Linked DNA regions of Homo sapiens. The protein of the gene in region 1 purifies or fractionates together with the protein of each later gene. This does not show direct contact. Each region holds a gene or a part of one and is shown in the gene's direction. Other genes may lie near its edges. The genes, in order: REEP2, NUP50, RCBTB2, TPR, DSG4, KCNIP2 and KCNIP4.

The links.
Region 2: the proteins of REEP2 (region 1) and NUP50 purify together in Homo sapiens (affinity purification with mass spectrometry; one large-scale study listed by BioGRID and IntAct). This does not show direct contact.
Region 3: the proteins of REEP2 (region 1) and RCBTB2 purify together in Homo sapiens (affinity purification with mass spectrometry; one large-scale study listed by BioGRID and IntAct). This does not show direct contact.
Region 4: the proteins of REEP2 (region 1) and TPR purify together in Homo sapiens (affinity purification with mass spectrometry; one large-scale study listed by BioGRID and IntAct). This does not show direct contact.
Region 5: the proteins of REEP2 (region 1) and DSG4 purify together in Homo sapiens (affinity purification with mass spectrometry; 2 studies listed by BioGRID and IntAct, with this or other methods). This does not show direct contact.
Region 6: the proteins of REEP2 (region 1) and KCNIP2 purify together in Homo sapiens (affinity purification with mass spectrometry; 2 studies listed by BioGRID and IntAct, with this or other methods). This does not show direct contact.
Region 7: the proteins of REEP2 (region 1) and KCNIP4 purify together in Homo sapiens (affinity purification with mass spectrometry; one large-scale study listed by BioGRID and IntAct). This does not show direct contact.

Annotation. Positions count from the first base shown.
Region 1 is NC_000005.10:138,444,761-138,447,465, forward strand, and holds the end of REEP2 (receptor expression-enhancing protein 2), read left to right. Parts: coding exon 1-107; intron 108-467; coding exon 468-615; intron 616-707; coding exon 708-838; intron 839-922; coding exon 923-991; 3' UTR 992-2,205; downstream 2,206-2,705. UniProt on the Homo sapiens protein: Required for endoplasmic reticulum (ER) network formation, shaping and remodeling. May enhance the cell surface expression of odorant receptors.
Region 2 is NC_000022.11:45,166,925-45,170,424, forward strand, and holds part of NUP50 (nuclear pore complex protein Nup50), read left to right. Parts: intron 1-1,241; exon of another isoform or gene 1,242-1,243; 5' UTR 1,244-1,253; coding exon 1,254-1,322; intron 1,323-3,500. UniProt on the Homo sapiens protein: Component of the nuclear pore complex that has a direct role in nuclear protein import. Actively displaces NLSs from importin-alpha, and facilitates disassembly of the importin-alpha:beta-cargo complex and importin recycling.
Region 3 is NC_000013.11:48,526,581-48,530,080, reverse strand, and holds part of RCBTB2 (RCC1 and BTB domain-containing protein 2), read left to right. Parts: exon of another isoform or gene 1-2,377; intron 2,378-3,500.
Region 4 is NC_000001.11:186,354,754-186,358,253, reverse strand, and holds part of TPR (nucleoprotein TPR), read left to right. Parts: intron 1-630; coding exon 631-857; intron 858-1,804; coding exon 1,805-1,968; intron 1,969-2,485; coding exon 2,486-2,619; intron 2,620-2,695; coding exon 2,696-2,844; intron 2,845-3,500.
Region 5 is NC_000018.10:31,407,777-31,411,276, forward strand, and holds part of DSG4 (desmoglein-4 isoform 2 preproprotein), read left to right. Parts: intron 1-1,675; coding exon 1,676-1,815; intron 1,816-1,968; coding exon 1,969-2,032; intron 2,033-3,333; coding exon of another isoform or gene 3,334-3,454; coding exon 3,455-3,500.
Region 6 is NC_000010.11:101,826,801-101,830,300, reverse strand, and holds part of KCNIP2 (A-type potassium channel modulatory protein KCNIP2), read left to right. Parts: intron 1-358; coding exon of another isoform or gene 359-403; coding exon 404-457; intron 458-1,101; coding exon 1,102-1,226; intron 1,227-1,411; exon of another isoform or gene 1,412-1,583; coding exon of another isoform or gene 1,584-1,604; coding exon 1,605-1,674; exon of another isoform or gene 1,675-1,841; coding exon 1,842-1,912; exon of another isoform or gene 1,913-2,042; coding exon 2,043-2,150; intron 2,151-2,307; coding exon 2,308-2,412; exon of another isoform or gene 2,413-2,441; intron 2,442-2,549; coding exon 2,550-2,612; coding exon of another isoform or gene 2,613-2,660; intron 2,661-2,900; coding exon 2,901-2,948; 3' UTR 2,949-3,030; coding exon of another isoform or gene 3,031-3,093; 3' UTR 3,094-3,500. UniProt on the Homo sapiens protein: Regulatory subunit of Kv4/D (Shal)-type voltage-gated rapidly inactivating A-type potassium channels. Modulates channel density, inactivation kinetics and rate of recovery from inactivation in a calcium-dependent and isoform-specific manner.
Region 7 is NC_000004.12:20,850,273-20,853,772, reverse strand, and holds part of KCNIP4 (Kv channel-interacting protein 4), read left to right. Parts: intron 1-3,105; coding exon 3,106-3,230; intron 3,231-3,500.

The DNA of each region.
Region 1 (2,705 bases):
ACGAGTACATCACGCAGGCCCGAGACAAGAGCTATGAGACCATGATGAGGGTGGGCAAGAGGGGCCTGAACCTTGCCGCCAATGCTGCAGTCACAGCTGCCGCCAAGGTGAGATGGGGGCAGGCTCAGACTCCCAGGGCCCCTACCTTGTACAAAGGGCCCTGGCCAGGCCCCTTTGCATCCACCCTGTACTCGGGGCTGTAGAGACTCTGGGCTCATGCAGCTGGAGGCTCCAGTCCAGGCTCTACTGCTATCTGGCCGAGTCACTTTGATTGTCCGGCCATTTCCCCATCTGTCCCCAGAGGCAAAGTGTGGCCCTGCCCCAGCCCTCAGCTCTGTCTGTGTGGGACTGGGTGAGGACAGTGTGGGGAGGGCACCGAGCCTGGGGCTGCTGCCAGCACCATGGTGACCTCTATCTCCACCCCGCCCCTTCCCCCCGGCTCTCCCGGTGCGTGGTGGTGACCCTAGGGCCAGGGGGTGCTGTCAGAGAAGCTCCGCAGCTTCAGCATGCAGGACCTGACCCTGATCCGGGACGAGGACGCACTGCCCCTGCAGAGGCCTGACGGCCGCCTCCGACCCAGCCCTGGCAGCCTCCTGGACACCATCGAGGACTTAGGTACAGGCAGGGCCCGGGGTTGGGGTGGGGCCCCAAGGGCAAGGAGTCCAGATGGGAAAGATTCCCCCACCTCCTTTTCTCCCTGCACCCAGGAGATGACCCTGCCCTGAGTCTAAGGTCCAGCACAAACCCGGCAGATTCCCGGACAGAGGCTTCTGAGGATGACATGGGAGACAAAGCTCCCAAGAGGGCCAAACCCATCAAAAAAGCGCCCAAAGCTGAGGTGAGGGCACTGGCCAGAGCTTGGGGAAACAGGCAGGGGGTGGCGGCTCCAGGCTGAGCCCCATCTTCCTCCTTCTTTCCACAGCCACTGGCTTCCAAGACACTGAAGACCCGGCCCAAGAAGAAGACCTCTGGCGGGGGCGACTCAGCTTGAGCCCCTCCACCCCCGCAGGCTGCAGAGCAAGGATGAAGCCTCAGGAGGGGCCTCAGACCCAGCCCCTGCTCCACACTGTGCCAGTAGCCTAGGTGTCTCAGGCCCCTGGGCCCCGCAGATGGCCATTTCCGGTGCCTGCCCAGTGGCCACTCTTCTGGAAGGGGCTTGGAAAAGAGGAAGGAGGCCCAGCTGTGGGGGTTGAGGGTAGAGGGTGGACCAGAGGCTGAGGACTGAGCCACCCAAGGAGGTGGGGACTGCTCGGCCTCCACCGCTGTTCCGCTGCAGCCCCGCCCTGCCCCACCCACCCAGTGCCTTGCTGAAGCCCATAGCAATCCGCTTCTCAGAGGTCCTGTCGTGTTTCCACTGCTCGCCTTGGTTTGGGAGCAGGGAGGGGGAAGTCCTAGCCCAGATGGACCAAGGACGGGCCTGAAGGCACATGGGGGAAAGGGAGCACACGGGGAGGACGTTGGGGACCCTGGGTGGGGCCTCCAGGTGCAGCTGTGGATGGAAGACAGGGATTGGCCTGTGCTTCAGCGACCAGGATGGCCAGGCCAGAGCTGCAGCTGGGGGCTCTTTTCCTGGTCATTGGGTGGGGCTGAGTGCCACATGTTCCCACATTAAAAAGGGGGGTCCAGGGCTGTGTGAGTGTGTCTTTCTGGGTCTAGGGCTCGGGGTAGTTTGGGTCAAGGACTGTCCCTCCAGCAGTCGCCTCCTCCCACCCTGAGCCCCACAGTCATCTGGCCCTTTCCCTGCTCAACCCTCCATCCTAGGCTCTGAGCCTCAGAGGACCCAGCCCATGAGAGAACGGGGATCTGGGGGGCCTCTCACCTGCTCCTATGACCTTGCTCCCTTTTAGGTCACCCCATTGCCACCGTGCCCCTGGGCTGGACTCCCGTGCTCCTCAGGGCCCACCCCTGCTCTGTCTGGTACAGGCCCCTGCTGAGTGGGCCCCTCTCCTCTGCCCCTGGGGTCCATCCCCTCTTGCCCAGGGTCCCCATCCTGTACCAAGCAGACTGGGCCCTAAGACCCCTGGCAGAACCCAGCCTCTGCTCACACCCGCCCCAGCTTCTGCCACGGCTTCAGTCAGGGCCAGGAGGAACACGTGAAGGAGAAAGAGAAATGCAGGAGCCGCGGGGCTCCCGGTTCCTTGGGAAGAGGGTGCCCATTGGACCTTTGGCACTGGATGAGCCAATAAACCAAACTCTGGCACCTCATTTATTTTGGCCTCTGTGCTTTGTTCTTGCCACACCAGCTGACAGGTGGGAAGGACCTCAAGTGAGAAGCAGGGTTCAGCTGGGGGAGTGGGGAGGCCAGCCTGTGACTGACAGGAGCTCTGGTGCCCAGCTAAGAGATGGGCTTGAGGGGGCTCAGTCTGGGAAAATGGTTTTGGGACTCAAGATAAAACCAGAGGCCTAGGCTGGGCGCAGTGGCTCATGCCTGTAATCCCAGCACTTTGGGAGGCCGAGGCGGGCAGATCACGAGGTCAGGAGATCAAGACCATCCTGGCCAACATGGTGAAACCCCATCTCTACTAAAAATACAAAAATTAACCAGGCATGGTGGCGCGTGCCTGTAGTCCCAGCTACTTGGGAGGCTGAGGCAGGGGAATTGCTTGAACGTGGGAGGCAGAGATTGCAGTGAGCCAAGATCGTGCCACTGCACTCCAGCCTGGTGACAGAATAAGACTCCGTCTCAAACAAAACAAAAAACAAAC
Region 2 (3,500 bases), on another chromosome or scaffold:
AAAATCACTAAAATGTATTAAAAGCTGACAGCCCGTATGTAATTACTCCACTGGCCATCAAATTGTAGAGGCCTTTGGAATACCAGCATTTGCATTTTACTTTTAGATACTAAAGAGTGATATGTCACCTCATATCTTAGCGACCACTTTGTGGGGTTGTAATACACTCTGTATTACACAATACACCAGAATAAGGAAGCTTACTCTGGTGTATTGTGGTGTTGAGAGCAAACAAGAGTGGGGAGAGTATCACGAAGGAGTTCAGGCAGGTTTAACAAGACCTGGCAGGTCCCCAAAACTAATCAGTAAGTTTTTGGGCGAGGTGGGTAGCAGGGGAAATGGAAAGGTTTTTTGTCCAGCTGGAGAGTTAGTGAAGAAGGCAGCACAACACTCATAGCGGAGCTCTGGGTTGTGGGTTTTCTTTGTTTTGTTGTTATGATATTAAGATCAGAAAACAAATCGTAAATTTTAAGGGATGGACAGGAGCACCCTCTTTGGTTAGGTGCCGGAATCCACTGCAGAGTTCACGCCGTTCCCCAACTCCTGCCCCTTCCACTAATGCCATCGTATTGAAGAGTTAAGCCAATGATTTGTTTTTGAAAGGTTATAAGTTCCCAGAATACTAACACACCCATGTTAATCATTTTGGACTTCTAATTGTCTTGGCAATATACAATTTGAAGCAACAAAATGTTCAGTCTTGGGAACCATGTATCTCTGTCGGCTGTAGCTTAAAGAACAGTATTCGTGTTGTGGAGGCGTTTCCAGCCCGTTATTCGTATTCTTACTGAAAGATACACTTCTTTAATGGGTCATCTTTAAGAGAATTTTAAATATTAAAATTATTTTCTTTATGACAAGACTTTCAGTATGTATATGCGTAGAATAAGTTAAGGACTTTTTGATTATATATACAGTACTTCAGATTCCAGATTTTTAAAAAATCAATTGATATTTCATTTTAATTTTTCCAAATGGAGTCGGTTTAGTGTTGTTCAGGACTGCTGGTGTTCCCTAGGAATCTTCTTCTGCCTCCTGGAAAAAGCCTTTATTGATTTGTAACACTGGGAGCCTAACAGCACCAATGTAAAGTTCTCATTAAAGCAGTTTCCAGATGCTTTTTTTCCCTGATAAAAAAACCAGAGATGTTTTTATCTCACTTCATGCTAGAGTGAATTTTTAAAATTCTTTATAAGAATTTATTCTTCTAGAAAAATAAACTCTTCTGTTTTCTATAACTTAGGTTCGAAAACATGGCCAAAAGAAATGCCGAGAAGGAACTGACAGATAGGAATTGGGATCAAGAAGATGAAGCTGAAGAGGTAAAAAGCAGCTTCCCTAAGAATGATTTCCTGTTTCTTTTGCCTTTTACATTCATTTTGGGGTTCCTCATGAAGACTTGTGACAGAACTAAAAGACCTTTCTAAGAACATCATGAATGGGAGATGACAAGAAATTATATGACCTGTACTTAGTGTAGATATTTATTAATTACATTTCTGTGACCTCTAGTTAGTGTAGAAATGTATTAATTACATTTAGATGTGCTTTTCCACTAGTGCCTGCTCCTTAAATATTCTCCTTAGTAGAAGCACTTTTCCTCCTGAGTTTCGTATACTTGAAGCATTCTGAACCCATGTTTGCAGTAAGCCATTTTAGTCATGACTGAAGGCTGAGTTAAGTGATGTAGTCATGAACTTAGCACACTGCCCAGATGTGAAAGTGGTACACCATCACCATCTTGGTCTGTGGTACTCCGTTTCCCTAATGCTTCTTGGAGGCCTGCTTTATTTCCTTTTCTTAATGGTAGACCTGAGACCCCTAACAATTGCATTTATAGGAATAGAATTGAGATTGGCCTAGTTCCTTTTCCAGCAGAATAAAAATGGTCTCCCCTGAGGAAATCTGATCATTTTTCCCTTATAAACAGTAGGACTGGGCAGCATAGAGAGATCCCGGTCTCTATAAAAAAAATTTTTTTTTTTTTTTTTTTTTGAGACAGAGTCTCACCCTGTTGCCCAGGCTGGAGTGCGGTGGCACAACCTCGGCTCACTGCAACTTTTATCTCCCGGGTTCAAGTGATTCTCCTGCCTCAGCCTCCCGAGTAGCTGGGATTACAGGTGTACACCACCACACCCAGCTAATTTTTGTATTTTTAGTAGAGACAGGGATTCACCATGTTGGTCAGACTGGTCTCAAACTCCTGACCTCAAGTGATCCACCCGCCTTGGCCTCCCAAAGTGCTGGGATTACAGGCGAGAACCACCGCACCCAACCCCCCAAAAAATTGTTTTAATTAGCTGAACATGGTGGCATGAGCCTATAGTCACAGCAATTTGGGAAGCTGAGGCGGGAGGTTTGCTTGAGCCCAGGAGTTCAAGGCTGCTGTGACCTGTGATTGCACCACTGCACTCCAGCCTGGGCAACAGGGTGAGACCCTGTCTAAAAAACAAAGAATAAAACACAGCTGTACTTATAGGATGTGGGCGAAGGATTACCCAGGTGCCGAGGCAAGAGACTGAAGGCACAAACTGTTTCAGTATAATACATAAAATAGTTAGAATAAGAATAGTCATAATACAAATTAGATACAGAGATGATCACGGGCATTATCAATCATTAGTATAAACATTACTAGTCATTAGCTTTTAATATTACTCTTTGTTGTACTACTAATATAACCAAGGAATAACCGGCAGATACAGGGTCAGGTGCTGAAGGGACATTGTGAGAAGTGACCTAGAAGGCAAGAGGTGAGCCAGCCCTCTGTCACGCCCGCATAAGGGCCGCTTGAGGGCTCCTTGGTCAAGTGGTAACGCCAGTGCCTGGGAAGGCACCTGTTACTTAGTAGACCGTGAAAGGGAGTCTCCTTTACTTGGAGGAGTCAGGGAACACTCTGCTCCACCACCTTCTTGTGGGAGATTGGATATTGTCCAGGCTTGCCAGTAGTCATCCAGAGGCTTGAACCCCTCCCTGTGGTGCTGTGCTTCAGTGGTCACACTCCTTGTCCACATTCATGCTCCTCCCGTAGTCCTGGTTCCTCTTTGAAGTTCTTAGTAGATAGCAGTAGAAGAAATAGTGAAAGTTTTAAAGTCTTTGATCTTTCTGATAAGTGCATAGAAGAAAATGCTGACGTACGCCGCCTTCCTTCTCTGCTTCAGCTACCTAAAAGGGAAGGGCCCCTGTCCCATGATCACGTGACTTGCTTGACCTTGTCAATCCCCTGGACGACTCATCCTCCTCACCCTGCTCCCTTGTCTTGTATGCAATAAATATCAGCACGCCCAGCCATTCAGGGCCACTGCCGGTCTCCGTGTCTTGGTGGTAGTAGTCCCCCAGGCCCAGCTGTTTTCTCTTTATCTCTTTGTCTTGTGTCTTTATTTCTTACAATCTCTGTTTCCCCCTTCGAGGAGAACACCCGCAAAGCCCAGTAGGGCTGGACTCTACAGTCGTACCTTATCAGCAGTGTGTTACCCCCAGGCCAGATGACTAAGGAAATC
Region 3 (3,500 bases), on another chromosome or scaffold:
CAGAAAAACGAACAAAAAAAAAATGAGCCAGGCATGGTGGCACACACCTGTAGTTTCAGATACTTGGGAGGCTGTAGTGTGAGGATCACTGGAGCCGGGAAGGTTGAGGCTGCAGTGAGTCATGATCACACCATTGCACTCCAGTCTGGGCAATAGTGTAAGACCCCATCTCATAAATAAATAAATAAATATTGCTACAGATTAAAATTGTCCAGGAAAAGGTAGATTGGAGACCAGGAATTATTGGGGTTACAGAGTGACATTAAGGACTCTTGTTAAAGACTAAAAGAGAGTTCTACTTGGAGATTTTACTTCAAAGGAGTGGATGGCTTGCCTCCTGGTAAGGGATATTGATAATGTCCATCAATGGAAGGCTGAGATGATACTTCCAGCTTTCATTGTCTGGAAGGAACATGTATCTAGTTCACATGGTGATCACATTCTAACAACGTGAAAGTTTCCAGGAAACTTAAACCATAATAATTTTTCAGCATTAATTTGACATTAGAGTGGGTTTCTTTTACGTCTTCAGCCTTGCTAATTGGCCTGAGCTAATATCTCTTATGTATATCTCCCTATGGAAGATGTTTTGAGCTAACAAGTACCAGTAGGAGATAGTATGTGAATAAAACATAAATTTTGACTGCATTATAATATGTCCTGTATTATGCTGCGTGTATGTATGTATATAATACTGAACAAAACCAATCTCAAGTGGAAATGAGCCAAGGCCAAGAGGGCCTGCCATGTTGAAGGAATATATATGCTGTGGGTCAAAGATCTTTAACAATTAGGATCTCTGTAGCAGGCGTGTTAAGATTTTTTTTTGAAAAATTGGATTAAATCTATAAGGACCGAGATTTAAAATGGATTTACAAATGAGATCTCAAATCTCAACTCACATTAGTGCATATAACAACTTAAAAATATTTTTATCATTTATGTTGGTTATTTTTCATATTTGAAAATGACACTTTTGCCGTGTGTGGCTGAAAAGACTGAAGTTGTCAAGCTCAGTAATCTTTTCAATTAAATACCGCTTTGCTTTGTACTGAAGATCTGACTCATCACTCTTGTTGAAATTTGGAAAACTTTTTAAAAAAACAAATAATTAAAATAGCAACAGGGTTTCTGTATTCTACACAACAGTTTTCTGTTTTTCATGAACATATGACAATACCATTTCCTTTGAGGTTGTGTGCTAGTTTTAGTTATGCTTTTAGTGTTTTAGTTTTGTCCGTCCTGTTTATAATTGTTCCATTTTAATTAGCCATGTAGGTATTTTACTGTTACTTGTCATTGATTTTAGACATCTCATTTAAGTGGAGCTAATATTACAGCTAACACTATCCCTTTTTGCAAGTGAAAACTGGGATCATGTTTTATTGTATACGTATTTATATTATTTATAACTTGAAGATGACCCTTAAAAAGCTATTAAAGATACTATCTAATGACTCACCTAAGGATATATTTGGGAACCATCATTATCCTATTGAAATTTATGTGGTCTGCAGCTCATTAACACACCGATGCTGTAAACTGCATGCTGGTACCCTAAAAGATATCGATATTATTTAATTTCCTGTTTCTTTTGATTATAAAAGCATCATCAAATGTGTTACCCACCCAGATGGGATAATTTTAAGCATAGAGTTCTATATTGAGAGAATTCTAAAAATATCAGTGTGTTTCTCAAGCATAGCTTTAGAGTTGATCTCATTAAGTTGAATTTTAAAATATGTAATACTGGGACTTCTCTGCAGGAATTGCTATTTTTTTTCACCCCTTCTTCTGTAATCACTTCTAAAGAAGAATTATTAGCATTTAGAAGCCCCTGATTAACTGCAAAATGTCAGCATTTAAAACCTACCATTGGGTTGGGGTAATGTGGACAGAAGTCCCTAAGAGAGCTGGATATTGTTTTGCTCTACGTTATTCTGTTTGCTCTCATGTATTTGCTTTCAATTCAGTGCCTACTGCAGGCACTGAATTAATATTTGTTGAATGAATTAGGCAAATGAACCTATGTCCCATAATCAGCTTAACTCATTTTTTAGGTCAGAGGTATTACCGAGTAATATAACACATTGTGTAGCAGATACACTGATTAATACTGATTACTTTGCCACAAATAATATGTACAGACTGCCTGTTATATCTTTTGTACAGGCAAATGAATTATTTGACTTTATGTGAGGATTAAGAATGAATGTGTTTATCACATTATCAAAAGAGTGTCCCCTTGTTCAGTAGTCTTCAACTGTGTAGTTTTTAAAAGTGTAGAGAAAACTCTCAACATAGAATATATAGAAATAAGGAGTTATCTGCCCCAAACAGGGATACTTTAAAAATAAATTAGTGAACCGTACAATTAGGAAAACAGCTGAAATAGGAAATGTCATGTGACAGATTACCTTACTTGATATATATTTGGCTTTGAAACATTACTTTTGTACAGACTTGAACTACTGGCCACCGAGTGTCCCATTTGGAACCTTTAAAGACAGAGATCAGTGGCAGGAACTTCTGCGTGGAGAGGTTACTTATCATTCCATTTTCTATTTATATTGCAAGGCAAACATTAGTATAATAAGATTCTGTAAAAACAGTTTTAGGTTACATTTTAATAAAATGAGGAAATAACATAGGAGACTGTTTTGCAAAGAACAAAGCACCTTTTAATATAAATATATATCATATATATATATCATATATAAATATATATCATATATATATATATCATATATATATATATATGAGCCAAGTCATATATCCCAAAACAAACATATAAGGGAAAAACTAATAAAGTAACACATAGTAAGATAGTAAGATAATATTACTGTCATCCTATAGTAAGATGATATGAGATGATCTTATGCTGTAACACTGTCACTATGAAGAAAATCTTCCCAATACTGTTGCCAGCTTCTGCCTTGGCTCTACAAGAAACATTGCCCTCCTATGCAGAAAAGGGGGGACATTTGTAAGCAGATTTAGACCATAAGTAGAAAGCACATTTTTGCCATTTTAATACACTGATATTAAACATTTTTTTAACTATTTTGGATTTTTCTTACAGGTACAATAGTATAAATGCTACTCATTGGATATGTTATTTAATCCTCCTATTTAAAAAAAATCTATTTATTATTATTATTTTTTGAGATGGAGTCTCACTCTGTCACCCAGGCTGGAGTGCAGTGGTGTGATCTTGGATCACTGTAACCTCTGCCTCCCAAGTTCAAGTGATTCTCTTGCCTCAGCCTCCCAAGTAGCTGGGACTACAGGTACACACTCTTACGCCTGGCTAATTTTTGTATTTTTAGTAGGGATGGGGTTTCACCATGTTGGCCAGGCTGGTCTCCAAACTTCTGACCTCAATTAATCCTCCCATCTCTGCCTCCCAAAATGTTGAGATTACAGGCATGAGCCACCGCGCCCAGGCTATTTTTATTTTCTTAGAGACAGAGTCTTGCTCTGTTGCTTAGGCTAATGTG
Region 4 (3,500 bases), on another chromosome or scaffold:
AAAGTGTAGCTAAGTTAACAGACAGTTGTGTATTTTTTTCACATCCTTCTCTGTATGTGTATATACATGAGCATATATAAACATATGTAAGAATTATTTGATTTTACTGAAGTAAGACTGGACTGTATGCATTACTCTGACACTTAACAAGCAAATCAATAAATTAATGTCTCATTCATATATTTTACCCTAATTTGTGTGTGTGTACATCCACGCAATGCACAAATGTAAAAATTTCACATGAATGGCATTATATATATGCTTTTTGTTTAAATGTCTATTTTTCATGCTCTGCCCTATCATATATACAAAAGCACACACAAAAAAATAGATATTTGTGGGTTTTATTTGATCACTGTTTTACAAAACTGGAGCCATGTTTTGGGAATTGTAATTTGGCTACTTTGTAATAAGTAATAGCCTTCAATACATACTTAAAAGTAATTTTATTCTATTAAAATTTGATTGTTTAGATTTTAATATCCAAGGATGCTTTATTTTTAAAGATAATTTGAGGCAGTACAAGTTGAAGGTTTTATAAGTAATGTTTTAATTTGAAAACTTTCATTCTAAACTTGTCCAGAATTGTAACTAATACTATTTTATAACATATTAAAACTTTGTTTTTAGATTAGAGTGCTTTTGATGGAACTTGAAGAAGCAAGGGGTAACCACGTAATTCGTGATGAGGAAGTAAGCTCTGCTGATATAAGTAGTTCATCTGAGGTAATATCACAGCATCTAGTATCTTACAGAAATATTGAAGAGCTTCAACAACAAAATCAACGTCTCTTAGTGGCCCTTAGAGAGCTTGGGGAAACCAGAGAAAGAGAAGAACAAGAAACAACTTCATCCAAGTAAGTAGTCACATACCTCAGCTTGTTGAGCAAACATTTATGAAAACCTCAGCTAGGCTCAGTGTCTCATGCCTGTAATCCCAACGTTTTGGGAGGCCTAAATGGGGTATCATTTGAGCCCAGGAGGTCGAGACCAGCCTGGACGACATAGTGAGACCATGTCTCAAAAAAAAGTAAAAAATTAGCTGGGTGTGGTGGCACATGTCTATAGTCCCAGCTACTCAGGAGACAGGCTGAGGTGGGAGGATCACTTGAGTCCAGGAGTTTGAGGCTGCAGTGAAGCATGATCATGCACCACACTCTAAGTGGGACGACAGGGTAAGACCCTGTTGCCCGCAAAAAAAATCTATGTGTTCCTAACAGTGCTAGATACTTGGGATATAGTGATATAGGGAGGAAAGAATTGAGCAACAATACCAAACAAAAAATTTCTACTCCAAGACCTCAGGTTATGGGTAAGACAGATGTAATAAATAGATAATAAAATAGGCAAGTAGACAATTTGCATTCACTGTGATTAGTGCCTATCTGTGGGATCATAGCGGTAGAGGACTTGTCCTAGATTTCAGGGAGCAGACCGGCTTCATGGAGAACCTGGAGAACCTATGTAAGAATTAGTCAGAGGTTTTTTCAAAATACATGTATAATGTCTTCTAGAAGAGGAAGAATGGCTAAGAAAGCAAGAAGACTAGAGTTTGGAGTGAGTGGAACTGATTTAATTTTTACAAACAAATTTTTCAGATTGCATTGGTAAGTATAAGTACCTGAGTCCTGTGTGGTGGGGATTTAAAAAGTAGTTCATAAAATACTCAGCATGAAAAAAAATAATGAGAGAGACAAAAATGGTATGATGAATGGTAGGCAAAGATGCTTGGTTAATTACAGTAGAAATTACAATCAGTTAACTCTCAGTTCAGTCCTGTGAATTAGGCCGACTTTTTCTACAGAATCACTGAGCTTCAGCTCAAACTTGAGAGTGCCCTTACTGAACTAGAACAACTCCGCAAATCACGACAGCATCAAATGCAGCTTGTTGATTCCATAGTTCGTCAGCGTGATATGTACCGTATTTTATTGTCACAAACAACAGGAGTTGCCATTCCATTACATGGTAGGTTTTTATAAAGTTATTTTAAGGAATAATTTAGAAATGTATATTAAGGGATTAATTTTGCAACATAAGCAATAGCCACTCTAATGATGGTAGCTTCAAATTTGACTACCATATATAATTGCTTATAACATCCCATCAACTGTAAAACATACCATTATTTTATGTATTGCTAAAAAGAAATGCTTTCTATTGTTGAAAAAGGTGCATTTCAGAATCAATGAATTACAGTATTTATTTTGGTTATGTTTTAATGACCAAAACAGATATGTTTTAATAAAACATAAATATGGATTATGTTTTAACCCATAAATACTGAATTATCTCTAATAACCATCAAAAAATCTTAATACATTGTTTAGTAGATTCCTTATTTAAAAACTCCTATAATCTTATTGTTTCATTTCAATAAGTTTAGCTTGTTTATTTGATAATAGTGTATTTGCAAAGAAGCATTAGATTAAAGCTGATTTATGAAAGCCAACAAAGCATTTTATTAGTCTTTACTTTCCTGAAGCTTCAAGCTTAGATGATGTTTCTCTTGCATCAACTCCAAAACGTCCAAGTACATCACAGACTGTTTCCACTCCTGCTCCAGTACCTGTTATTGAATCAACAGAGGCTATAGAGGCTAAGGCTGCCCTTAAACAGGTAAAGATCACACCTTTGTCCTGGGTTAGGTTTTTAGAGAACACAGTGTTACCTTCTCATAATCTCCAATATTTAGTTGCAGGAAATTTTTGAGAACTACAAAAAAGAAAAAGCAGAAAATGAAAAAATACAAAATGAGCAGCTTGAGAAACTTCAAGAACAAGTTACAGATTTGCGATCACAAAATACCAAAATTTCTACCCAGCTAGATTTTGCTTCTAAACGGTAAGTTTTCTTTTGTTTCAAATTAATTAAGTCTAAATGTTATACTTTACAATTCAAATCATTTAAATTCAAGAGCTAATTTGCAATAGTGTTGCTTTTTTTGTGAACTGTGTTCCAGAATGAGAACCTCTGGTAGTTCATTTTTTTCATATTGATTAATGATTCTCTAGGCAGTGCTAAGGGTTTAGCTTGTTTGATAAGTTGAAGCCAGGCGCAGCAGCTCACGCCTGTAATCCCAGCACTTTGGGAAGCCGAGGCAGGTGGGTCATTTGAGGGCAGGAATTCAAGACCAGCCTGGCCACCATGGTGAAACCCCATCTCTACTAAAAATACAAAAATTAGCTGAGCGGCAGTGTTGCATGCTTGTAATCCCAGCTACTCAGGAGGCTAAGGCAGGAGAATCACTTGAGCCCAGGAGGCAGTGGTTGCGGTGAGCCAAGATTGGGGCCACTGCACTCCAGTCTGGGCAAGAGAGTGAGATTCTGTCTCAAAAAAATAAAATAAAATAAAAATAAGTTGAAGTTCATGTGAGGAATGTTGGTAGTTTACCTTCCTAAGATTAAAGGACTTGTTTCGGTAGGACTTAATTCTTTTAAAAATGCACCAGATGATGAGAGAAATGAGAGCAAATTTTATTCCACCTTTTCTATTCTAGG
Region 5 (3,500 bases), on another chromosome or scaffold:
ACTCTACAGCAATTGAGTAGTGGTTTCGGGTAAGCTTTGAGTTAGCGGTTCTCAACCCTAGTTGTACATAAGAATTAGTTAAAGGTCTTCCAAAATTACTCATACTAGAGTCATACTCAAGATGAGACCAAGCATCAGCATGTTCAAGCCCTTTGGTGAGACTAATGTGCAGTTCAGGGCTAAAAACCCAGTGCCAGCTGCATTTCCAGAACGTTAGCACTAAGAATTTCAAGACTTTTTCCTGACCCAGACAAAGAAAGCATGAGAGTTGTTCAACTGATGGATTGTAGAATAGGAGAGGAATACCCCTATGGACACTTGTTTTCAATGGAGAAGCCCATGGTCTATTTTAGGAGAGAGGGGGCAGTGTGATGGTAGTGGGAGGGATCTGAGCCCAAACCTATGTTCCCAAAGGGCCTCAAATTGACACTTTTGATGTTAGCTCCAAATGAGATTACACATACAGTAATTGTATTGGGTATGTGCTAAAAACACTTCATTTCATTTATTAGATAGTGCCTTTGTTAGAGTTCAGGCCTGCAATGGTACATGATCCAGCTCACATTTAAATTCACAGAAATATAGAATAGGCAGAACCATGGCCTAGGGGCTACCAATTTTAGTTTTAGTCCTTTTCCAGAAAATGCTATGGAAATGTATAACTTGACCTTTCACTGTTCATAGTGCAGATGGCAAAATTGCCAAATTAATTGTTGTAATAAGACTAAAGCTGATTTTGCAACTTTGATAGTCTCTTCTTTTGTATCTGTTTTTAATTTTTAATTTTTGTGGGTACATAATAGGTGTACATATTTATGGGGTACATTAGCTGCTTTGATACAGGCATGCAATGTGAAATAATCACATCCTGGAGAATGGGGCATCCATCCCCTCAAGCATTTATCCTTCTATTCTTTATCTTTAATTAACCCACTTAGTAAAATGCATGCCATGCTAGAGAATTAGGAAAGTATGAAAAGCAACCAGAGTGGGCCCAAAGAACTAAACAGAGTGTATTCTAGAATCTTAGAAAACTTAAGCAGTGTCTATATTTATGGATTAAAATACAGAATTGAGGTGATTATTAGGGTAACAAATAGGAAATTTCCTCTTAAGAAACACTTGGATAGCTAAACATTTTTGATAGCTTTAATTTTTCATTATAGTCTATAAACAAAGTCTTAAAATAATTGTAAATATCTCCATTAAATTTAGTGAGTATTATTTGACTTCTATTTTAAGTGTAACTGTAATAAGGATTGAAGATAGGTCCTATCTCCAGGTCCTATAGCTGAATCCTGTATTCAATCCTCTTGATAACATATATTCATGATGCGTTTAACTTACATGTATGTGTGCATCTGCCCCAACCAGTTCAAGAGTCTTAGACTAAAGACGACCTTACTTTCCTAATCTGTCAGCAAAGAAATTCAATTACCTGATCGCAAACTCCTTGCCATCTAGCGCTAAAGTTCTATGTGATTTGGTGGTGCTGTATTTATAAACTTGGATATGTATACTCAATCCCCTAAAGGAAAAAAATGAGATTTTCTTACATATATTTGTATTTTTGTTCTAAATATACTGCCACCAAATGCTCCCCAGAATGATTCATCCAGTGACTTCCTAAACCGAGCAATGTGTGTTAACTCGACATTGTCACTTTCTTGGGCAGTGGCTCCACTCTTGCTGCTCCTGTGTTGCTGCAAACAGAGACAGCCAGAAGGCCTGGGAACAAGATTTGCTCCTGTGCCTGAGGGCGGAGAAGGAGTGATGCAGTCTTGGAGAATTGAAGGGGCCCATCCCGAGGACAGGGTAAGTGGACTGTCACTCTCCAGAGAAGTGTGGAGTTTCAGTGGAAATTGAGCATGTCTTAACAATTACATGCTGCACAAAAATGAACAGATGTCAGTTTTTAAATGTTTAACATAAAGCGTTTGTTTTTAAAATGTTTATTTTTCTTTTCAGGATGTGTCAAATATATGTGCACCCATGACAGCCTCAAATACCCAGGATCGGATGGATTCCTCTGGTCAGTAGACACCAAAATCTGTTTTTCCTTTTAAATTTTTCAAAATTATTCAACCAGACCAACTTCATGTAAAAGTACCTTATGGAAAAGTCTGTCAGTCTCTTTGGGTGACAGTATAATTAGAGGGAATGTGACCTGTTTGAAGTAGCCACTTTTTTTTTCTATCTGAAACTACAGACAGTGAAGTATGACACAGCAGTTAAAAGAGCAAACTCTGGAAGCAGAATGCTTGGGTTTGATTCCCAGCTCTGCCACTTGCTTAAGGGTTGCATATCTTTTATCCGAAATGCATAGGACCATGAGTTTGAGTTTGGCTCAAACTTTTTGTACCATGATGATCAAAAAGTTTCAGACTTAGGAGCATTTTGGATTCTTGATTATTGGATTTGGGATGCTCAACCTGTAGTAATAAGTCCTTAGTCAAGACATTTAACCTCACTGGGCCTCAGTTTCCTTATCTTTAAAATTGAGCTTATGATAGTACCTACTTTAAAGTGTTGCTGTGAGGAGTAAATAATACATATTACATATGTAATATATAATACATACATATATTGTATAGATTATTTTATTATATATAACATACATGTGTATGTGTGTCTATATATATACACACACACATATATAAGTGTGTATATATACATATATCACAAAATATACGTTAGAGTAGTGCCTGGCACTGTAGTAATTATTTATAATACAAGCTGTTTTTTTTTAAAGAGCTAAAGAAAAGGCAGTAAATGTACTCTAATAATACACTGAATAACTTTTCTTAACTTCAGACAAGCTTTTGCCTCAAAAGAGTGTCGTAAACTCTCCTATCTTACCAGCCCCACGCATATCTAACAATACTGAACACACTACTTAGCTATATGGCAATGATTGCACCAAACAGAGAGGGTGCTTAATTCTGCAGTGCACGTGAGCTTTCTCTGATGGTTCCTTAGTATCCCAAGCTTGGCCCTTTGTATGCAAAGAAACTCCGTGACTGAACATCCCTGTGAGCCCAGCTCCATCCTGTTCCGGAGTGAAGGAGGACTATGAGCTCAGTTTCTGCAATCACGCCGCTGGCCTTGCTTTGGAGGGCTCCCGGCTGGATCAAGCCCGCAGCAGCCACGGCGGGAACGGGCGCCTGCTTGTAGTTCTCTTGGCTAGTTCTACACCTTTAAGTCTAGGGCGAAGTCTGTGCAAATGTGGGAAGGCCACGTCCCACCACTGACTCCCTCTGTGTAATTAATTTACTTTTATTTGGTCAACAAGCCTGGAGATGTATCGGTGTAACTTGTATCTCTCTTTGTCAGCTTTTTAGCGCCTACGCCTTGCCGGGTGGTGGTGGCACCGCAGACGGCGGCGGCAGCGTTTTAGGCAGATGCGCGCTGCAGGCAACTCCAGCGCTGTTAAACCAACATCCTCCCTTTTCAGAAATCTACACCAACACCTATGCAGCCGGGGGCACGGTGGAAGGAGG
Region 6 (3,500 bases), on another chromosome or scaffold:
ACGCCAGGGTATTTGGGTTTTCTGTGCCAGCCTGGTCCCCTGCTGAGTGATCTCCAGTTGAGTGACCTCGCTTTGTCTCTAGGTCTCCATTTCCTCAGTTGGGCCTTGCCCACCTCATAGGATCATACTGCATTTTGCAAACCATAAAGGCCCGCTTTGTAGTTATTTGAGCATGCTGTTGTGTTGGACTTAGATGGGTCCCACACGGGGGTGGATTCGGAAAAGGACAGGCGTGAGTCCCGCAAGCTTGTGTGCATGGGGTCCGTTTCGTGTGTGTCTGTGCTGGTTGGGTGTGCCTTTGCACGGGCTGGGTTGTGAGGTTTGCTCTGAGTGTGAGGGGCCAGGTGTGTGTCTGCAGTTGGCCGGGTCTTCCGCTTTCTCGGTGACAGTTCGCTCCCTTCAGCATTAGCCGCCCCAGCCTCCCTCCGCCCCCACAGACCCCGCCTGCTGGACCCAGGTGACTTACGCTCCTGGTGGGGGCGGGGCGGGGCAGGGCGGCTTTGCCATCTTGGGGTGGGGGGCACTTGCCTGGGGGCTGGACGTTGGGGGCGGGGCAGGATTGAGATGGGGCCGGGGGTGGGGTCTGGATGGAGGTTGGCTGAGCTGGGCGGGGCATGGCTCAGGCATGGCTGGGATAGATGGGGCTGGGCGGGGCGAGGGGAGGGGCTGGGTGGGACGAGGGGAGGGTTTGGGCGGGGCAAGGCTGGGGCTGGGCGGATCTGAGTTGGTCCCCGAAGGCCCGGAGCTCTGACCCTCAGACGCCCCCTCTTGAACTGGCTTTTCCCACTCCTCCCTTTCTAAAACGAAGATGCGGCTGGGGGCCTTCCCCTCCAACGAGGGATCGAGGGCCGCGGGGCGAGCACTGAGTCGGATCCCTGGCTCTGGGGCCAGGCCAGGCCTTGGCCCGCTGATAGACCTCGAAGATGGCCATCATCTTTTCTCCTTACCTCAGTGTCCTTGGCTCGGGGCCCAGGGAACTGGCAGCCTGGTCTCCGGCATCGGATGGGACCGGGGGGCGGGGAGGGGGTGAATGGGGCAGTGATTTGAAGAGGGGTCGCGGAGGCTGGGCCTGAGGCGCGGCTGTCCTCACCGCTCCCGCAGACAGCGTGGACGATGAATTTGAATTGTCCACCGTGTGTCACCGGCCTGAGGGTCTGGAGCAGCTGCAGGAGCAAACCAAATTCACGCGCAAGGAGTTGCAGGTCCTGTACCGGGGCTTCAAGAACGTGAGTGCAAGGCGAGGCCAAACTCAGCGAGGGTGGGACAGGAGGACCCAAGCCGGTCCACAGCTTCCCAGAAAGCATGGCTTGGATGCTTGAGGTGTGGGCGGAAGGGAGGCAAGGCCCTGAGACTGAACTTCTAGCTGGAGGTTCTGGGGCGGGGCCAGAACGGAAGTGGCGCCTGTAGACTGTCAGTTTCGTTCCATGTTTTTTATTTGTGCACTGGGAAAGAAGTCTTCCCTCCCATCACATGAGCCACGTGGTGAGTCCTCTGGAGGCTTGAAGATTATCCCCCTCCCTGGGAGTCTTGGGCCATGGAGGGTGGGGGCGGTGAACGGAAGGGGATTTTGTCTCTGCCCTCAGCCTGGTGCCCTCTCCTTCCAGGAATGTCCCAGCGGAATTGTCAATGAGGAGAACTTCAAGCAGATTTACTCCCAGTTCTTTCCTCAAGGAGGTGAGGGGACAAGGCCCAAGGGGAAGCAGTTGTCCTTCTCTAGGCTGAGGGAGGGAGGGATTCTGGAGGAGCTGGGAATGCCAAGGTGATGGGGGGTATGGGGAGCTCCTTAGAGGGAGGAAGTCCTCTCCTGTGTGGAAGCCAACTTCTCCACACTCACCCTGCAGACTCCAGCACCTATGCCACTTTTCTCTTCAATGCCTTTGACACCAACCATGATGGCTCGGTCAGTTTTGAGGTGAGCTGGGCGAGGTGGGCCAGGGAAGCCTGTTTCCTGGAGTTCAGGGCCAGGATCTCCAGGCCAAACCCAGAGAAGGAGTTGGGTGAAGAGTACCCGAGGACACAGCTCCCTCCTGCCTCCTTCCCAGGACTTTGTGGCTGGTTTGTCCGTGATTCTTCGGGGAACTGTAGATGACAGGCTTAATTGGGCCTTCAACCTGTATGACCTTAACAAGGACGGCTGCATCACCAAGGAGGTGCAGGGCAACTGAAGGGCTGGGGGTCTGTGGCGGTGATGGGGGTGGCGTGCAGAGGGTGATGGGAGGGAAATATGACCCACATATGCCCACAAGCAAGGGATCAAGGGAGGCTGGAGGCTCTGAGGAAGGATCCTCTTCTCTCTTGGCCTAACAGGAAATGCTTGACATCATGAAGTCCATCTATGACATGATGGGCAAGTACACGTACCCTGCACTCCGGGAGGAGGCCCCAAGGGAACACGTGGAGAGCTTCTTCCAGGTACTTGGGAGTGGGTAGGCTGGAGGGCCCTGGAGTGAAGGGAAGAAGGCCAAGAACCAGCAGGGAACTCACCTGACTTCTGTCTGCCTCTCTCTTGCCATCCCTCCTGTTCTCCCTGCCTGACCACCTTCTTGCAGAAGATGGACAGAAACAAGGATGGTGTGGTGACCATTGAGGAATTCATTGAGTCTTGTCAAAAGGTACAGCTCCCTGCCCTCTACATTACCCTGACCTGGACTCAGGCCTGATTTAGTAATGCAGGGAAAAGCTTCTTTGGGAAGAATACCACCTTCCCACCTCACCCCCATATTTCAATCCTATTCCTTTGTGGGAGGCTTACCCCTTCCCTACCTCAGGTCTCTCTGGGCATCTCCTTCCTCTGTGCTTTTGAATGTCCCCGTCTGTGACTCAGTGTCCCTCTCACTGTCTCTGATAAGCTCCTTCTCTTTCTCTCTCTTCAATCTGCCTCGCTCACATCATGGCCACAGGATGAGAACATCATGAGGTCCATGCAGCTCTTTGACAATGTCATCTAGCCCCCAGGAGAGGGGGTCAGTGTTTCCTGGGGGGACCATGCTCTAACCCTAGTCCAGGCGGACCTCACCCTTCTCTTCCCAGGTCTATCCTCATCCTACGCCTCCCTGGGGGCTGGAGGGATCCAAGAGCTTGGGGATTCAGTAGTCCAGATCTCTGGAGCTGAAGGGGCCAGAGAGTGGGCAGAGTGCATCTCGGGGGGTGTTCCCAACTCCCACCAGCTCTCACCCCCTTCCTGCCTGACACCCAGTGTTGAGAGTGCCCCTCCTGTAGGAATTGAGCGGTTCCCCACCTCCTACCCCTACTCTAGAAACACACTAGACAGATGTCTCCTGCTATGGTGCTTCCCCCATCCCTGACCTCATAAACATTTCCCCTAAGACTCCCCTCTCAGAGAGAATGCTCCATTCTTGGCACTGGCTGGCTTCTCAGACCAGCCATTGAGAGCCCTGTGGGAGGGGGACAAGAATGTATAGGGAGAAATCTTGGGCCTGAGTCAATGGATAGGTCCTAGGAGGTGGCTGGGGTTGAGAATAGAAGGGCCTGGACAGATT
Region 7 (3,500 bases), on another chromosome or scaffold:
TCTGGATATTAATCCTTTGTCAGATGTATAGATTATGAAGATTTTCTCCCACTCTGTGGGTTGTCTGTTTACTCTGCTGACTGTTCCTTTTGCCATGCAAAAGCTCTTTAGTTTAATGAGGTCCCAGCTATTTATCTTTGTTTTTATTGCTTTTGCTTTTGCTTTTGGGTTCTTGGTCATGAGATCCTTGCCTAAGCCAGTGTCTAAAAGGGTTTTTCCAATGTTATCTTCTAGAATTTTTACAGTATCTGGTCTTAGATTTAAGTCCTTAATCCATCTTGAGTTGATTTTTGTATAAGGTGAGAGAAGAGGACCCAGTTTCATTCTCCTACATGAGGCTAGCCAATTATCCCAGCACCATTTGTTGAAAAGGGTGTCCTTTCCCCCACTCTGTGTTTTTGTTTGCTTTGTCAAAGATCAGTTGGCTGTAAGTATTTGGGTTTATTTCCAAATTATCTATTCTGTTCCACTGGTCTATGTGCCAATTTTCATACCAGTACCACGCTGTTTTGGTGACTATGGCTTTATAGTATAATTTGAAATCAGGTAGTATGATGCCTCCAGATTTGTTCTTTTTGCTTAGTCTTGCTTTTTCTATGAGGCCATGCGGGCTCTTTTTTGGTTCCACATGAATTTTAGAATTGTTTTCTCTAATTCTGTGAAGAATAATCATGGTATTCTGTGGGGATTATGTTGAATTTGTAGATTGCTTTTGGCAGTATGGTCATTTTCACAATATTGATTCTACCCATCCATGATTCTACCCAGCATGGGATGTGTTTCCATTTGTTTGTGTCACTTATGGTTTCTTTCAACAGTGTTTTGTAGTTTTCCTTGTAGAGGTCTTTTGACTCCTTTGTTAGGTATATTCCTAAGTATTTTATATTTTTGCAGCTATTGTAAAGGGGTTGAGTTCTTGATTTGATTCTCTGTTTGGTCACTGTTAGTGTATAGAAGAGCTACTGATTTTTGTACATTAATTTTCTGTCCAGAAACTTCACTGAATTCTTTTATCAGTTCTAGGAGCTTTCTGGAGAAGTCCTTAGGGTTTTCAAGGTAAACAATCATGTCATCAACAAACAATGACAGTTTGACTTCCTCTTTACCAATTTGGATGCCCTTGTTTTCTTTCTCTTGTCTGATTGCTCTGGCTAGGATTTCTAATACTATGTTGAAGAGGAGTGGTGAGAGTGGGCATCCTTATCTTGTTTCCATTCTCAGAGGGAATGCTTTCAACTTTTCCCCACTCAATATTATGTTGGCTGTGGGTGTGTCATAGATGGCTTTTATTACATTAAGGTATGTGCCTTGTATGCCAATTTTGCTGAGAGTTTTAATCATAAAGGAATGTTGGATTTTGTTGAATGGTTTTCAGCATCTACTGAGATGATCGTGTGATTTTTGTTTTTAATTCTGTTTATGTGGTATATCACATTTATTGACTTGCGTATGTTAAACCATCCCTGCATTCCTGGTTTGAAACCCACTTGATCATGGTGGATTATCTTTTTGATATGTTGTTGGATTCAGCTAGTGAGTATTTTGTTAAGGATTTTAACATCTATGTTCATCAAGGATATCAGTCTGTAGTGTTCTCTTTTGGTTATGTCATTTGCTGGTTTTGTTATTAGGGTGATGCTTCATAGAATGAATTAGGGAGGTTTCCTTCTTTCTCTATCTCCTTATATCTTTCTTCAGATGTCCTTCCATTCTGAGAGTCTAAGGTTCTATTTTTTTTGTTTGTTTGATTGTTTGTTTGAGACAGGGTCTCATGCTGTCACCCAAACTGGACTGCAGTGGTGCCATCACTGCTCACTGCAGCCTCAGCCTCCTGGGCTCAAGCAGTCCTCCCACCTCCGCCTCCCAAGTAGCTGTGCAAAATATCTGATTTCATTGGAATCCTTAGTGAACATTATCAGAGGCTATCTTGTAGTTGCATTTTACATAGGGCACAAAACTGATTATTATTAAATGACAATTCCATTGTTTATAACTAGTGGTTGTTATATAGAAACAAATTCCAGGTTGGACTATTTGTGATCTTCTATGTTTTTCTAACTATACCTTAAAAATGCTAGAGATGCTGGTGAGGTTGTAGAGAAAAAGGGAAACTTTTACACTGTTGGTGGGAGTGTGAATTAGTTCAACCATTGTGGAAGGTAGTGTGGTGATTCCTCAAAGACCTAGAGGCAGAAATACCATTTGACCCAGCAATCTCATTACCGGGTATATACCCAAAGGAATATAATTCATTCTATTATAAAGATACATGCCTGCATATGTTCATTGCAGCACTATTCACAATAGGAAAGTCACAGAATCAACCTAACCGCCCACCAATGATAGACTGGATAAAGAAAATGTGGTACATATACACCATGGAATACTATGCAGCCATAAAAAGGACAGAGATCATTTTATTTGCAGGCACATAGATGGAGTTGGAAGCCATTCTCTACAGCAAACTAATGCAGGAACAGAAAACCAAACACTGCATGTTCTCACTTGTAAGTGGGAGCTGATTGATGAGAACACATGGACACTGCCAGGGAACAACACATGCTGGGCACCTGTTGGGGGAGGGAGAGGATCAGGAAGAACAGCTAATGGATGCTGGGCTTCATACCTGGGCGATGGGATGATCTGTGCAGCAAACCACCATGGCACATGTTTACCCATGTAACAAACCTGCACATCCTGCACATGTACCTCTGAACTTAAACGTTGGGGAAAAAAGAAATATATGTTACTGTTAGATTTATAGAGTAATATATATTGCTACTTAAACTTTTTGTTTGACGTAATCATATAATCCACTGATTATCTGAAATAAATTCCTGTGCTCTTTTTTGTTGTCTTAAAACAATGCTAGGGTTGTAATATCTACATTAATGACAAGAATATGCAAAAAAATCATATACAAGTGTTTTAGCTTAATACGCTTAAACTGGGAAATGTAAAGGCCTTATAGGCATTGTGAGGGTCCTTCCTCTGTGGACAGTCACAGACATTAGCAGACATGTTCTTCCGTTTTCCTTTGTTGCTCTGTGTAAGCATCGGTGAGCAGTGGCTGGTCCTAAGACTCTTTCTTGTTTTCCTCCACAGACAGCGTGGAAGATGAACTGGAGATGGCCACCGTCAGGCATCGGCCTGAAGCCCTTGAGCTTCTGGAAGCCCAGAGCAAATTTACCAAGAAAGAGCTTCAGATCCTTTACAGAGGATTTAAGAATGTAAGAACTTTCTTTTTGACTTTACCTTCACACAATTCCCAGAGGAGCATTGAGAAATGAGAGGAAAAGGGGGAAAATATCCCATTCTATGAGAGCCCCATCATATGTATATTTCATACTGATCCTTCCCAGATAGGAATATAATCAGTATCTGTGGACTTTGATTCTCTGTGGCACACCCATGCTGGCATACTGTGATTGCCCATTAAACAAAGAGTTTCTGAGAAAGTTTTATTCAATTCAGTTCTTGGTTGAAATATTTTCTCTTCA